Linked DNA regions of Homo sapiens. The protein of the gene in region 1 purifies or fractionates together with the protein of each later gene. This does not show direct contact. Each region holds a gene or a part of one and is shown in the gene's direction. Other genes may lie near its edges.

Region 1 (3,500 bases):
CTTTGGCCTACTACTAACTTGGCTAGTGGTTCTTTAGACATTGGCTGATCACCAGACCTACTGTTATCTGGTAAAATAAACTCTTTGCTTGCTGCGCATGGAATTAGAGACAGTGCTATTAATTTAGGAGAAAGAACTTAGAGAAAGGAAAGGTTATCATATTTCAGAGTAAGAGACCAGCTTAAATACGACTTGACAATTGAGAACTAAAACAAACCTGTGTAAAAGTGCTTTAGCACAATTAACTTTTGCAATCCCCTCAAATCTTCTTTTTTTTTTTTCTTAAAAAGCATTTCTTTCTTATTTTAACCAAATTTAATTGCTCTTGAATGGCTCTGTACTGTACAGGCAAATGAAGCTCCCTATTCATAGAACTTGAGTGCACAGAGTATCAGGGGAAGCTTCCTTCCTCTGTTTGACTGGTAAACTGACATCCGGGCTTAAAGGAGTGAACCTTAGACTGTGTGAGGTAGTTGGCTTTCCTTCCTCACTCAGATTTTCACATAGACTCCCTGAAAGGATGACTGCCAGAAAGAGCAGTAGCTTGCTAATAAGAACTCTAGTGCATTTTCATACTTGGTGCTCTTAGGTAGCTCTGCACAGAAAGAAAAAAATGTAAATATTGAAGTGGTGTCTGTCTTTCCTTTACTTCTGTCTTTAGAGTCTAAGAGTGGAGCTCAACCTACTGCTGACTGTTACTCTTCCTTTTGCATGCAAATGAAACTTCAATTATTTCACTGGCTTTTAGGATAAGTTTGTTGTCTAATTGGGTTAGAGTGCCCTTCAGGATGTGGCATATCTTTATGTCCAGGCTCAAGACCAGCCATTTCCCACCTCCCCAAGCCCATTTCCATTTACCTTGCACTTTAGTGATGTTAAACCTCTTGCCTGTGTTCTCCCCTATCTTTGAACACTCACCCTGGAATGTCTATCTCATTCTCTTCCATCAGCAAACACCTTCTCCTACTTTATACTTCGAAATTTAAGTAAAATATCATAGCTCCAGAAAACTTTTCCTTATATCTCCAGGTGAGCCCTAATACCAAATACATGCTCAGTATGTACAAGGTTCTGTCATATGCACTTTCATAGAGAATCTTATTTAATTGAGACAGTTTTCCTGGAAGTAAGCTGATATCAAAATACTGATTTTACCCATGAGATAACTGAAAAACAGAGAAGTGAAAGATTTTGCCTAAAGTCACACAGCTAGTAAGTAGTAGACCCAGAATTTGAATGCTGCCAAGCTTTCTCCAAGGCCCTTGCTTTTGGCCACTTGTCCATGTTGACTTTGCTGGGTGTTCTAATGCTTCTATACAGCCTCCTAGGCTTATCTTATTATTATGGTGCCCTGGGGCCTAATATTAATGTACACATCATGCAGCTAAACCACAGAAAATACCAGGTCATTGGGTGAATAACTTGACTGCCTTCAAGGAGAAATAAAAAGAGGTTCTGGTAAAAGGTGATGTTAGAATCCAGATAGCTCTTCAGCCTGCACTTAAGTTCAGTGGTAGAGACCATATTACTCTTACCATTTTATGGACAAACCTCAGCCTCAGTGGTAGTGGAGGATTGAAAGGGGAGTTTCTGGGAGCCATCAAATATTAGTTTTGTTCCTTTGATTAACTTAAGGAGAAGCTGACAGATGTATCTGTTAGTATTCAAAGTTCCAGTTGTGGTTGGCTTGGTTTCATTAAGTAAAAGAACTCTTATAGATCATTGCTTGTCCTAATCAGGATCCATTATAAAGGTCATCAGGACTTATTCTACTTTTGGGGATTGGTGTATGGAAGTTCTCTTAACTGTCTTCAGCATAAAAAATGTCAGAGTTGATTATCCAAAAGCTTTTTTGGAGTGTAATCAACTGAGAGAATGTAACATCATTATTTTAAAAATTACTCACTTATGTCAGTCTTCTTCTAGGAGTTCCTGGGTGGGTAGTGACTGTGATCTAGTTTTATTTGTGTCCCCAGTGTCTACCATGGTGACAAAATACACAGCATTGATATAGTAACTATTTAGGTTAATTATATTCTTTTTTTACCCAGAAGACTGGAACAAGATTAAAATTGAGTTAGCTTGGAATGGTGTGAACTGAAAGTTTGAGGACCTCCTCAGATTATGCTGTTGGTAGTGACATGAGTAGTGACTCCTCTTTTTTAAATTCATTTGCTAAAAGTAAATAAATTTCAATTTACCTCTAGCTTTTTCATATGGAAAACAGTTCTGCATTCTCTCCAAAGGTGCCACTGAATATTTGTAGCTACAGAGTGACTATATTACCTCCAAAACTTTGTTTTGTTAATACCTTAAGATATGTAGTGGTATTGACCGTAGCATAAATCATCATTTTACTTTTCTACTAGTGAACAAGAAAGTTTAATCTGAGAATAATATCAATCTGTAAAATCGATCATTGGAAATAGTCCTCTCATATATTCATTATTGAACCTTTCATCTCAGATTGGTATGCTATTGGGGATTAGTTGTCTGACTTTGCTTATTAGCTATTAGAAATAGCAGTTTATCCATATATAATATATATATATATATCCATATATATAATGTATGGATGTGTGTGGGTACATGTGCATGTGTGTATAAATAAAGTGCTTTATGTTTATTTCAATAAACTCATTCTTCAAGTTAGAAAGTAAATTATATGTTTTATGTATATTGGAATTATTATATTATGAAGTACCATCTCCAAACAAGAAATATATAGAGCTTCAAAATGCTTAATAAGATTAATAGACAATAGTTGTAAAATTCTTTTGGAATATAGTTACATAGTTTTTATACTATATTGCTATCCATGGTATATTTTAGTTACACTAAAATCACTGGTATAGGTATGTTTATCTGATTTATTTCATCTAGAACAGAATCCATCTAGAACAGAAAGCATCTAGAACAGAATCCACCACATAGTAGGCATTTGGTAAAACTTTGCTGAATGAAGTGAGGGCGTTGTTGACATTGCTAATGACTTGATTGTCCATAACCTAACCACCTGAGATGTGATATATAGCTATGTGTATCACCTACTCTCAATGTCTATGGAAGTATCTTGAACCAATTTCTGCTGATATTATTGTGATTTCCTGAGACTATCAGTCTCTATTTTGGTTCTAGGCCAACCTATGACCTCTACCCTAAGCACTCTCCCACTTTGTTATTTCTGAAAGTAAAAATCCTCTTTGCTTGAGATTTAGATATTGTCTCCCTCTAGAAATAACTTTCTTCAAGCATTGAAGATTGGGGTAGTTAGCCTGGCATAACATTATAAAGCACACTATACTTATCCAAAACTCAAATACTTATCTCAAAATATTTTTGATGGTATAATGAAAGCAGGAAATACATCTTTTTCACTGATGCAAAACATTCTGGCATCTGTCACCATATCTAGAGGAAAATAGATAGCCAGTAAATATTTTTTGAATGAATGAACTCATAAGCAAGATATTTTCAATAAAGTCAAGAGGACTGGGGTC
Region 2 (2,679 bases), on another chromosome or scaffold:
GGGATGAGTGTCTTTTCACACAGGATTGATGGTCCCATTTGTTATTCCTTTCCACTGAGCCAGAACCTGCCCCAGGCAATGTGCTTCTCCTGGTGTGGTTCATCTCCCACTGGGCAGAACACAGGGTCCAGGGATGGCCCCTGACCAGGGCGGGACAGTGCTTTGGGAAAACCTTTGGTATGTGACCACATGCACTCCTGTGTGTGCTCAGCCCGAGATGTCCTGGAGTCAAAGTCCACTGGAGAGGATCCAACCCATCTTCATGTCCCCCCAGGACCTCAGCAGTCCCCTGAGGTCAAGAAGAGCTTGTGGTGGGAGGAGCAGAGGGAGTGACCAGCCCCAGGGAGAATGGGGCAAGCAGCGGGGCTCTCCCCAGCCTCCTGTCCCCTGCCCCGTTTTCTCAGGAGTCTCGAGACATTGTCTGGGATTGCGTGATGGTCATGCGGCCTTTGGATGGGGGCTCAGGGTGGAGGAGGGCAGGTTGGTTGGGACGGGTTCTAAATCCTTCTCCTGCCCCTGTTTACAGAAAGCTCTGGAGGCCCGGACTCCCCGGACACAGAGCCCGGCTCCTCAGCTGGTCAGTAGCAGGGCCCTCAGCTGGAGGGGATTACAGGGGAATCTGTGCTGCGGATGCTGTTCCGGGTCCAGCCCTCTGCCCTGGGCTTGGAGTCAAGGTCTAGGGAGGCCACGGGAAGGCACCGACACCCACCAAGCTCTGGGAGGTCGCTAATGCTCACAGAGACCATAGCAGCAATGGTACAGTGATTGCAACCTTGTTCCATGCCAGGAACTGTGGAAAGCACTTAATGCAAGCACCACTTAATGGGGGAGGTACTAGTCTGATCCTCTAACTCCTCCTCCTCTCTAATATGCAAAACATAAATTAAAGTTTCGTGCTTAACGGCACAAGGCCATGAAGGGGCAGGGGCCACCCACCCGGGCAGCCCCACCCCAGACTTCCGGGCTCTCCCGAGCTCCACGCTGCCCCCTTGTGGGCGTGGCCTCACCATTCACCCCGCTCTGCACCTGATGGAGGGACTTAGAACTCACCTTCCAACCTGGGACACCCGGAGAGGGACGGGGCTGCTCCTGTTGGCTCTGTGATCTCCGGGGGAGGCCTGAACGGTGGAGTAAGGTCCCTTAAGAGGAGGAGGGCTCCACAGGGAGGGGACGTAGCTGTGAACGGTGACCAGGATGAAGCCATGAGGCTTCCCTTCCATCTGGCTCTGCCCTGGACTCTGTGATGGGAGAGAAGCTGCCTCTGGCTCTGCCCCTGGACTCTGTGTGATGGGAGTGAAGCTGCCCCAAGTCCCTGGGTCTCAAGTTGTCCATCTCCGCCTGTGATCTGTGACCAGAAACTGCCAGGGGAGGACACGGGGTCATAAGCCATTCGCGGCCCCTTCCCCACCTGGGTTTCTATCCCCAGAGTACGTCCTTGGACCTAGACCCGGTGACTGCCTGTGAGGCTCGGGCTGTGAGCTCAGGCAGGTGGGACCAGGGGCTGAAGCCACATGGGGAGGTGGGAGGAGCGATGCCGTGCTCCATCCGGACCCCCTCAGAGGCTCCTGGGCTGCTGGGGCACAGCGGGACATGCTCCTGAGTCCCGCAGACCTGGTTCAAGTCCAGTGTCTGGTTTTTATTAGCCTTCTGTCTGCGGGAATATCTTGCCTCTGTTTCTCTCCCTCTCTTCTTCTCCTTCCTTCTCTCTTCTCTCACCTTCATGCAGTGACATATAAAGGTCACGAGGGCAGACCCTCCTGCAGCCAGATTGCTGGGTTCATGGTTCAAATCCCGGTGGTTCTGCCACCCCCTGGCTCTATGCCTGACGGTGACTCACCCAAACCTCCTGTGTCCCAAATTCCTCATGTGAAACAGAGGCAATAGAAGAGCTGTCCTGGTAGAATCGTTTAGGGCAGACTTGAGTTCAGGTACACACGGCGCTGACATCAGTGCTGATTAGAAAACCCCAAAGGAGGGATGCTCCTATTAATACTGAGGAAGTATTTTGTCCTCACAGGGACTGTGCCAGGCACTGAAGCCTCCGGATTTGATGCACCATGAATGAGGAGAAATGGCCTCCCGTCTTGTGAACTTCAATGGGGAGAAATAATTAGAATGAGCAATAGAAATGCACAGATGCCTATACATACATATACAAATAAAAAGATACGATTCGCAATGGAGAATTTCAGACCTATCATTTCAATTATATTAAATATGTTCACGTAATGTATTACATATATAAGGAACATAATTATATAATAAAAATATGTTAACATATCACCACATATCACTATAATTATATTATATGAAAGATTTATTTACAATATATAGTACAATAAATTTCAGGTGTTATTATAATTAATAAACAGGTACAAACATAAATATATATTATCTATTATTTATAGATTATAATTATAATAGAAAAATTTTATATTTAATTATATGTTTATATGTAATATACATTATACATTATATATTATAGTGAATATATGCAACATATATTATAAGTATAAATCATATACAATTAACATTATATACATTAAATTATGATGTATATGTCAAGATTACATAATTTAATATATATTTGTTATATATTATACGTTTGCATAATACATGATACATATAACTATAAATAATATAAAAACTGTAATATTGCACATATATAATACATATGTA

Evidence for each region. Proteins that work in one complex are often made in the same cells at the same time.
Region 2: the proteins of COL11A1 (region 1) and LAIR2 purify together in Homo sapiens (co-immunoprecipitation; one large-scale study listed by IntAct). This does not show direct contact.

The regions. Positions count from the first base shown.
Region 1 is NC_000001.11:103,098,523-103,102,022, reverse strand, and holds part of COL11A1 (collagen alpha-1(XI) chain isoform A preproprotein), read left to right. Parts: intron 1-3,500. UniProt on the Homo sapiens protein: May play an important role in fibrillogenesis by controlling lateral growth of collagen II fibrils.
Region 2 is NC_000019.10:54,508,509-54,511,187, forward strand, and holds the end of LAIR2 (leukocyte-associated immunoglobulin-like receptor 2 isoform a precursor), read left to right. Parts: intron 1-526; coding exon 527-577; intron 578-2,017; coding exon 2,018-2,061; 3' UTR 2,062-2,179; downstream 2,180-2,679.